2 linked regions of the Homo sapiens genome follow. The protein of the gene in region 1 purifies or fractionates together with the protein of each later gene. This does not show direct contact. Each region holds a gene or a part of one and is shown on either strand. Other genes may lie near its edges.

What was found.
Region 2: the proteins of FMN1 (region 1) and NAPG purify together in Homo sapiens (affinity purification with mass spectrometry; 2 studies listed by BioGRID and IntAct, with this or other methods). This does not show direct contact.

Annotation. Positions count from the first base shown.
Region 1 is NC_000015.10:33,149,413-33,156,941, forward strand, and holds part of FMN1 (formin-1), read right to left. Parts: intron 5,634-7,529; 5' UTR 5,503-5,633; coding exon 3,636-5,502; intron 3,376-3,635; exon of another isoform or gene 1,968-3,375; coding exon of another isoform or gene 1,846-1,967; exon of another isoform or gene 1,141-1,845; coding exon of another isoform or gene 1,107-1,140; exon of another isoform or gene 372-1,106; intron 1-371. UniProt on the Homo sapiens protein: Plays a role in the formation of adherens junction and the polymerization of linear actin cables.
Region 2 is NC_000018.10:10,550,027-10,553,264, reverse strand, and holds the end of NAPG (gamma-soluble NSF attachment protein), read right to left. Parts: intron 3,189-3,238; coding exon 3,045-3,188; 3' UTR 501-3,044; downstream 1-500. UniProt on the Homo sapiens protein: Required for vesicular transport between the endoplasmic reticulum and the Golgi apparatus.

The sequences.
Region 1 (7,529 bases):
ACCATTTCTCTAATGATGAACATTCAAATTTTTTCTAGCTATTTTTTGCCACTACAGACAATGCTGCAATAAACATCCTTATGCCTAATTTCTTATTGGTACATATATTTATGTAAGCTAAATTCCTAAAAGTGGGATTGCCAGGTCATAGTTACACAGAGTTTTAATTGGGATCCTATTACTTTCTCAAAAGTGCATAGCAACATACTTTATGTCAACTTAATTCCTGTATTTGTTTTATATGGGTAGAATATGGCTGATGCAATTTTTGAGTCCTATTTTCCCTCCATTAATTTTAGATAATTTTCTTTGTACTACATACTTTCTGTAGTAACCTTAAATGGCTGCATATGTCTATTAATGTCGTGACGCTTCTTTACAATTTTATTGGAATTGCATCAAACCTTAATATTAATATGGGAAGAGTTTATATTTACTTCCCATAATGTATATCCACAGAGACAATCAAAGCTTTGACAGTAGTATTAGGGGTTTACACATGTAAATAAAATTTATTTCATGTATGCCTCTTAACTCTTAATAAGTTGACATTAATTACATATTTTCATGGGCACAAGAATTGATCAAGAGATTCTCAGTTCTCAATATCAGGAAGAACTATGCCTGGAGCATATGCTTCCATCACCACATCAGTGACTTCAGTCAAAGGAAAACAACCACAGGATTACTCAAGAGCATACTAAAGATTGGGCATTTCCCAAGTATGGTGAGCCAAGCTCCCTGTGATTCTTCTGGCACTAAAAGGGTTTACTTTGAATCAAAGGTAAATGAAAGCAAGCAAAACAGAAAGGAATCCTAGCACCAAGCTCCAAGGACACTGCTTTGCAGGCTAGCACAACTAGAGTTCCTCAAGGTTTGGGGGAAGACCATACTCCACAAAGGCTTGGGAACATTCCACATCAGTCTCCACCCGCCAAATAAAATACTATAAAACCAATCTCCAGGTTGGTGGTGGGAGGAGGCAGGAGAAGAAAAACCTGACTACCAGTTCTTGTTAGTATATTCTCTATTTTATCACCACTATGTGGTGATAATGGAGATTCCCATGCATCATCCTTGAAATGAGAAGTTAAGAAATTACAAACCCAACAGAAGGTGCATCGCTGGCCTCTGTGACATCCTTATGCTACATCCTGCATGAATGGTAATGTCAGCTTTAACTGCTTAGTCTTGTAACAAGGATAAGCGGGTTTCACTGGTTCCTGGGAATTACTACTTGCCTCTAACATTGAAGAGTCTTCCAACTGGAAACAGATCTGATTACTTTTGCCAGACTTAATCTCTTTCTTAAGCAGTTAATGAGAGCTTTCAATAATCTTAATGACATCACTTCAATAAAAATACCTAGATGTTATTTCCACAGGAAATAAATGTCCACAGACCATAAACTTAATCTGGTTAATAGCTAACCTGGGAGAAAGGTGGGAGTTGGGTTCAGATAAAGGGACACTGTAGTGTGATGGTAAATGAATTATTCACCCCTCTTTCTGGACTGCTGGCAACTCTCTGAGCCCTCTTCTGGGTTTAGGTGGGAAGAGAAATGAAGTGAAAGACAAAGGTAGCTGGAAGCAGGAAACTTCTCCCTGTATGGGCTTCCCAGCTGCAGGGAGTCACTGAAGGGTTCAGAATATAAAGAGGACTCACAGCGACAGGAAAGGGAAAATCAAGAGAGAAAAGGGAACTAGACAGAGGATACAAATCAAAGGTACTATCTGGGGAACTCCCTCCCTCATGCCTTTCAAAGTAGGGCCAATAGGAGGTAATGGCTGGAGGCCCTATAGGAAGTCTCCACAGTAGAGAAGTTACCCATATCAAAAAAAGCTCTTACCCACTTCTACTCTCCTTCCCTTTTCCAGCTTCTTCTTTTATAAGGTTAGAAGCACAGGAGATGCTTACAGTTCTTATGACTGGTTCCTGAAAGTGCTGCTGAAGATCCCAATGGAAGGCTGAGGCCAAAGTAAAGGGAATGTTGAGTGATTGCACGGAGAGGCCAAAGGAACATGTGATCATCCATTCACCTTGTCACTCAGTGGGCTCACGGTCAGTCTCCAACAGAAACTGAATGTGCTCTGTGTGCCTGCCTTGATCCAGATACACTGGAGCTTTTATGATATTTTTCAAATAGAAAAAGGGCAAAATAATAAGATAATCCTACATTGAGGAAAAAGAGGATTTACTAAAGAGCAATGTATTTAATGCACAGTTTCTGCAGTTTTTGGAGTTAAGGCAGCTAAGATATTCTACACTCTTGCCTCCAGAAATCTCTCTCTTAATAATCTCAGAGAGTTTCCTTGTCAAGTGTTTCTAAGTCCTCAGCATCCGACAGGAGAAAGAATTTTCATCACTAGGGTTCTGCAATACATGATATAAAATCTACGATTCTGTGACTTTCCTGGTGAAGCATATTGGTTATGAAAGTAGAAAATCTTATCAAAACAAGATTTATTGCAAAAAACAAGATGAAAAGCATTTACCACATTTTTAAAGCTCTACCCCCTGGATCAATGATCTAGAGAGATTTATAAAATTTCACAAGTTCAAAATGACCAAAAAGCTTTGAAGCTCCTCTTCCCTAGATAGATATTTTTTATCTCAAAAATTGCACTTGATGTTTGCTCTAACCTGTAAGAGACTGTCTATCATATTAGGAGCTATTCCCTAGAAAAAGCATTGCCCACATGCTGTTAGAGGAGCTCTGAAAAAGAACACATAACCTGCACAATGGCATATAAAACCCTGAGATTCTGGCCACAACAGCCTAGAAAATGTAATGAATACCAGAGCAGTGCTTCTTTTACACAGTCTTTTTTGGTCCTATTGAATCCACAAAATTATTTTCATGTAACATTTTAAATCACATTAAGTATGTAAGTCAAATGAGCTCTTTAGCACCTTTTACATAAGAAATGATGCTATACCAGTAACAGTAACAACCCATAAGTAAAAGATACCTACGGAATAAAGTCAATTTGTGCTTATTTGGGAAATTTAAAAACTGTAAAAAAAGAAAACTTTGAACCAAGTTTCTTCAAATTAGACTGAATTCCTTCCTGTTCTGTTAAAACACAAAAGTTTTTGTCATAAAATAATAGCACTTATCGAGATGATTACTAAAAACAAACAAACAAAAACCTCTAACTACAGACATAAGTGAAGACACAGCGTACTTTTGCACTTCTGCTTAGAGAATCCCTAGAATGACTCCAGCAGCATGAATGGCAGAATTTAGGTCAAGAGGCCAATTACCCAGTGTTACCATCAAAGGCAGGGACAAGTTACCACTTCTCTCTGCCTGTTCCTGTTTTCCTTTGAGAGTCACTGTTACGCAACCACAGAAGTAACTTTAGAGGATGCCAAAAAAAAAAAAAAAGAAAGAAATAAAAGACATTCACAAAGTCCTGGAAGCAACTATACCTCTGAACCACTAGGTCAAAACCATCCTAATCATCTCCACACCCCGCTGTTCCACTCCCCGTTTTCTTGCTACAAAGTGAAGTAATAGGCCTAGGAATTTTGGTCCATTGTTAATCAGTCAGTTTCTAAGTAGCACAGGCAGACTGATAGTTCCCCAATCAGCCAAGAATAGATTCAAAGCATCTTAAACAGAGACTAACCTGGAGGTGACTGGTGCTGGGGCTCAGCTGTGGTCTTCCCTGGCCCCAAGCTCTTTTCCAAAGTTTCCCCAGGCACCAACCGAGGTTGGCCTGCTCTGAGGAAGGCCGGGCTGGCTCCTTTGGTCTCCGTGACCTTTGCAGAGGATGGTGGCTCCAAGGTGTCAGCAGAGACGCACCCAGAGAAGACACGGCTCTTTCTACAAGGAGAGTCATTAAGAGCAGCTTCCCTCTCACCAGGCAATGCAGGGAGCCGGAGGATCCTGTGATGCTGCTGAGGGCTGGGGAGCCTTGGAGACAGAGGCGAGGGAACAGGTGACGTCTGTTTGTGTGTGCTGGACTGCGAGGCTGAATTATTAAACACCTTGCCAAGAGCTGCCGGTGCTGGTGGGGATGGCTTCTTCTTATCACCTCTGGGTTGTGAGGAGTCAGGACCTACTTTGTGGGGCAGATCCAGAAACAAGGACTTGTGGCCACCAAGGGGCAACCCGGCTCTCCTCTTGTTTCTCGTTTCTGGGCGAGTGTGAGGGACACTCGTGTGGACAGGGAAGCCCAGTCTTTTCCCCTCAGGGGCTTCATCTAACTTCTCACTCTCTATCACCTTCAGGGGGACCTTGTTCACGGCCCCCTCGGCACTGGCCGACACACTAGAAATGGAGGCTGTTTCCCCGGCTGGCGACTGCGATGACCTATCCCCTTGCCGCTCCTTGCCCTGCCGCCTGGAGCCATGAGCCCCAGCCTCAGCTCCCGGGAGGGTGAGCAAGTCGGCTTTGGGTACAAACTCAGCGTGGGCTGCTGGGCGAATGGCAATCGTCTCCTTACCCTTAGAATGCGTTTTAACTACTCTTTGTACCTGGGAGGACAGGTCCTGAACTTTGGCCACCACTTTGGAGACAGGTTTCTGCTTGCAAGTCCGCTTAGCCGGCTTCTCCATCTCATCCTTTTCTGCCTCTGGATGCTTCTCAGGGTCCTGGTGACTTTCAGACAAACCTGTTTGCTGATGCTCCAGCCCGCTCGGCGGCCTCCGAATGCCATCCCCTCCTGCCTCTGTGGAGCTGCAGTCAGGGGGCAGCACTTCTCTTCCAAGCCCAGTGTCCTTGAAAGCCGTCTCAAAGCTCCCAAAGCCAAGGTCTGTGTCTGGCGTCTTGGGAATATCTGGGGGGCAGCTCTCTCTCCTCTGCAGGGAGCAGGCAAGTGCCCCATTCGGGAGCAGATTTCCTTTCTCCTCTAGTACCCAAAGGTTAGGCCTTGTTCTAGAAAGAGGAAGGGAGTGGCTGGAACAGATCTTGTCCTTGCCCATCAGAGGAGCTGATTCTCGGCCTCCACGCCCTTTTCTTTTGGTCCTCTTCTGTGGAAGGGCCCCAAAGCTCTCTCTCCTTCCACTAGACCTCCGAGGCTTTTTGTTCCCGTGGGTGCTCCTCTTATTGAGAGGGCCCACGGGGAGCTCTCCCTGCCAGTCACCAGCACTCTGGAAACAGTCATCCTCGGGGGCCAGGCTCACGGACAGCTCTTGCAGCTTCCCCTCCTGGTTCCCCATCGTGATCCCCAGGATGTGGTCTGAGCTCAGGAGATTGGTTAGCAGTCTCTCCCTCTCTGTTGTGAGTTTGTACAGCTCAGTTAGAATGTCTTTCGTGGGAGTCTGCTTGAAAAATATGTCGCCTGGATGTTCGTCCGGCTCCTGGCTGAGGCTGATGATGTCTGACTCCTCCCTGACTTGGTAGCAGTTATGAAAACCTTTATTGGATCTGTCTAGAGTTACAGTGCCCTTGTATGAAAATCCTCTGACTTCCCCCTTTGGAAGACAGAAGCTGATGTAGCAGAGTTCCGTAATGGGCTTATGCAATTGGAGGGTACAATGAGTGCCTTCCATTATGCCTACCTAATTATTCATGCCTTGGAGATGCCGGTTTGTGGTCAGGCTTCCCAGGCTCCAGTGGTGAGGCATGTGATGGTGGCTATGCAGAGAAAGCAGCTGACAGTCATCTCCAGCAATGAGACTGCCTGTTAGAGGAACAGGGGAAGAAAGCAGCTTGTCTAACAGAGTGCATAAATCACACACCAACATAAAATCAAAGCATAACCATGACTTATCCTTCCTCTGTGGCTGACCTCAACAACTCAAGGAATCAGACAACAGCCAGATTTCAATCTCTTCCTCACTCCCACCCTACTCCTGATCAGTAGAACTTTTGTATAACTGAGAGATGGGAAAGTCCTCTCATTTCACCCCCAGGACAAAAGTTCCCTTTCCCTACATGGGGACTCACTGTGCAGCCTGGATCAGGTCTCTCAACTTCTCTAGACCTTGGTTTATGTTCTTCTGTAAAATAGAGCTATCATAACTCCCAGAAGTCCTTATCTAGGGGGCTTTGAGATCCTTAGAAAACACAGCCATTTTCATAACTCATATTTGGAATATTACTTTGCAAAGGTAGATCGATCAAGCCTTTTTACCCTCTAAAAACCACCTTCAAGATCTGAGCTCAAATTATCGATTCAACTTAAAACACAATGTGAGGAAAGATCTTAGGCCCCAAATTTGGTGTCAACAGTAAAAATTTCAATGTAAAAGTTTAAAATTTAAATAACTCAAGTCTTAATCAAGTTTTGCTGTTTTCTTTTTTATTTATTTTTTGTTGTTGTATTGCCTTCTTTTTTCCTTCCTGTTGTCTATTCGAAGCCAAATGGAATGACAGAGGAACAGCAAAAAATCTATAAGGAACGGCTGGCCCTGTACAGATTTTTCAATGATGTCACCACAGAAACGGCTGAAATGTCACATAATTAGTGAAGGTGGCTGCTTCCTTGTGTGATATGAGGGACCTCAGAAATGTCTCTGTGGCTACCATCCCCACACACAAACTCTATATTTCTAGTTTCTTAAGCTATTGCCCAGTCTTCAAGCCTTCCTTGCTTAAAACAAGCACCGCCCACACCCTGGGAATGATAACACAATAACTATTCATTAGCCCTTGATATCTTTAGTGAATTATTTTCCTCAGGTTTTTTCTAACTGCTTCTAAATAGCAAAAAAGCTACATAAAAGTATATTTTGAGTGAAGGAAGAGAGAAAGGAGGAAGAGTCTGGTAAAAGTAACTCCTTGAGGAAGAGAGTGATAAAATGACAGTTATGAAAATTGCAGATATCTGGTCAAACCAGAATGCCAGGAGACCAGGAGAGGCCTTGCCTCTTTCACAATTGTATATGGGGCTGTTCTCACTCAAGTAGTTTTTTTTTTTTTTTTTTTTTTTTTTAGATGGGTTCTTGCTCTGTCGCTTAGGCTGGAGTACAGTGGTGCAAACATGGCTCACTGCCGTCTCAACATCCTAGGCTCAAGTGATCCTCCTGCCTCAGCCTCCCGAATAGGTGGGACTACAGGCACGTGCCACCACCACCCAGCTAGTTTTTTTGTATTTTTTTTTTTTGTAGAAACAGCCTTTTGCCATGTTTCCCAGGGTGGTCTGGAAATCTTGGACTCAAGCGATCCTCCCACTTCAGCTTCTCAGAGTGCTGGGATTATAGGTGTGAGCCACTGCTCCCGGCCGTATTTTTAAAACTTTTCTAAAATGCTTATTGCTAGCATTTTCTAAAGATGCACATGTGTAGGGATACTTAATAATTATTGGTAAAAACTCGCTGCATGTGTCCAAGAACTCACTTAGGAGGTAGTCTCTTATTGTGTAATTTATAATAATCAGTAATAAAAGCAATTGCAAAGCTGTCAATATCCGCTGAGCACTAAGCATTAGGAGTTCAATTAATGAATTCTCAGACAAACTGAAGGGAAGCAGCAGATGAGCTATGCTGAGTTTTGGAAAAATAGAATGCTCTCCTCTCTCTTCAAGCATCATTTTCCTCTAGCTGTTCTCATCTCCTCAATTCCCATGGATTAGGAG
Region 2 (3,238 bases), on another chromosome or scaffold:
TCTGCATTCTTTCTTACTTCAACTTCTCCTGAATCCAGGTATCAAATTATATTATTAATTTCCATTCCATGAAAGACAGGGATAATATTACATAGTTAGCATCCAATAAATGTCTGATTGTAAGTAAATCTGCTAGTATTTAAGGTGCTAATTATGTAAACAATTTCACATCAGTTCTCTTAGCCTCCTAATCATACATGGTTTTATCTCACTTAACCCAATCAAAGAATTACTCTCTTGGAAGAGGTATTAGTCTTTCATCTCACCAAACAGCAGTATATGTAGTATTACAATAACTGAATGACTGGTATTTTAAGAAGCTCAAACAGTTTAAATTCCCAAAGGTACCTTACTCCCAAAGAGCAGAAAAGACAACTGCAGATAACAAAATACTGTCCTTGTAAAATAATGCTGAAGTCATATAATTAAGAGAATGTGTCCCTGGAAAAAAGAAAATTAAAACAAGCTAAACAAAATAAATAATACAAAGAACAATTATATTTATATAGTTTCAGGTTTTATTTTCATAATTATCTTCCTATAGAAGCAATAATCTGTATTTCCATAACAACACATTTAATATTCTACTCATCAGAGTTGGGAAAAATAGGAATAAAGCAGATTCCATACAGAAATACCGTACTCTGCATATGTACAAATAAATTCAATATATTAAATCTATTTTGTAGCTGGACTTCACTTACAATGTAACAGAACATTGAATATTAGATTCTGAGCATATTCATGCAAACTTCCACTTTGGTGAAAGTGATGACAGTGGAGTTCTGGAAGACAATTTTCCTTGTAAACACCAAGTTTTGCACTTTGGACTATGCTCTCAAGATAGAAACTTACGTGAGTGGAAAAAGAAAATGTATAAATGTGAAACAAATATTCCTTACCACACAGAATAACCCTGACAACAAACAATATCCCCAAGTCCTGGTTATTCAATCCTCACCGTGGGCAGGAAGGGTGAAGGAGGCTGCACCTGGACACAGCCTTTTGTGTGGTTTAAAGCATAGCTGCGCTGCTGCTACAGAATGCACTTCATCATCACCTTTTTTAAAAAAAGTTTTCAGTACATAAGAAGAGTAAAATTAAAAAATTTTTTCCCCCAGACTTTAATGGGTAATATGATCTATCTATACATAAATAGTCTACAGTATCTTTAAAGTATTGCCAAATCTGTTTAAACAGATTACTAATTAGCTCAAATGAGCATTAATGTAAGACTCCAGAAGTTTCCGATTGGATCTAAAGGATACAAGCTGCAATGATGGGATCTTTGAAACACTGCAATGTCCTTAAATGCAAATGTCTACATATAGCTTGTTCATAGTTAATCCCAATATCATTAATAAAAATGAGGTGCTACCTGAAGAACTATGCCAATAAATTAAGGAAGAAAAACATTAAATTTATTAGCATTTTGTATCAGACTTACAATAAAGACTGTATACCAACATCCACGCACCCGAGACCACCTCCCAAAGGAGGATGTTATTCTAAGCTCTCCCGCAGAACTGTGACTAAAATCACTTCTGATACTCCACCTTAGTGTTTTCAGGAAGTCTAGCAAAATTAAGCAACCTATACTCAAATAAGGTATGACTCTAAAAGAGACAGAGACAGGGCATGGATGAGCAGGAATTACTTTGGCAGCGTGTACCTGCAGAACGCACACTGCTGGTGTCTGTAGCCTCTTTCCAATTAACAGATTACGAGATGGGTCTAAGCCACACAACAGGGTGAAAAAGGAATGTTTCGAAAACAGCATTTTAGGAAATAACTATAAAGGATCAATATATTGGCAGTGCGGTGTTTTAAATATTGTCTTTCTAAAACAATTCTTCCCTTTCAGCTAAGTTTTCATAGTATATAGCATTTTCCATGTCAAGTTATGACGGAGTTACAATCAAAATAAAATAAACAATCAAAATAAACTGTTTTGGAGGGAAGAAATATATCTGTATTAGACTGATGGAAACATTACCTCATTCTTACAATGTTAGAAAGATATTCATAGGCTGGGTGAGGTGGCTTATGTCTACAATCCCAGCACTTTGGGAGGCCAAGGCAGGCAGATGGCTTGAGCTTAGGAGTTTGAGAACAGCCTGTGCAACATGGAGCAACTCCATCTCAACAAAAAAAATAAAAAAAAAATTACAAATTAAAAATAAAAACATTAGCCTGGGAGCCGTGATTGTGCCACTGCACTCCAGCCTGGGCAAAAGAGTGAGACCCTTAAAAAAAAAAACAAAAAACAAAACAAACAAACAAACAAACAAAAAGGTATTCATTACCCATTAGCTCCTATTTGGTCAAGAACCAAGTAGATTTGAAGACAGTCACTGTATGTATTTTTTAGATAGAAGAAATACCCACACTTCAGAGAGGACTGAAGATATTTATAGATCACTTCAATATGCTACCTTCAAAATTTTTCAAACTCATAATATATAAGAGCTTCAATGCATCTTTTATTGGGCTAAATAATATTGTAAGGCTCAAAATAACTTCCTGTCCCCATCTCATCTCTGAAAAGACTTAATAATTTAAATGTATCTAACATCATGGGGGATAAATTTACTTTTCAAAACAAAAAAATTTTAAAATGATTTATCAGTAAACATCACCTTTAGCAGCAATTATTAAATGAAACGTAAAAAACAATTCACTAACAGTAACTTACAAGTGTCCAAGAGAGAATACCTATGCTTATTACCCCTTTTGTTTAGAACATAATTTATGTATAATTTGGCTTGCAAATTTTTTAATCAATGTATTAAAACATGACAGTACATTTTCTGTTAATTCCTGCTGGTGTCTTAGAAAAGCTCTTATGGAAAGAAAAAGATATGCTTCACAGGTAATGGATACAATGAGTGATTTGGGAAGATGGTAACTAAAAACTAGTCTTTATTAGGATCCAAAATCATGACTGTAATGAAGTACGGATATCCCTAATCTATTCCCAAGTCCTTGAAATGGCATGTCAGGATTTTACCTTTGTTTCCCTTTTCTTTTCAGCAAGCAAAATACTAGCATAGTCCTCCTGAGTATTCATCTTCCTCTTCATCAGCAGCCGTGGCAGTGACACCATCAGGCTTGGCCTGTGGTGTTGCAGGTGATTTCTTCTTGATTCCCCCTCCTGGAACCACCAAACTCAGGCCCAGCTTAGCATACTGTCAACAACAGAACATGTTCTTAAAAGCTGGATAACTAGAATCCTAAC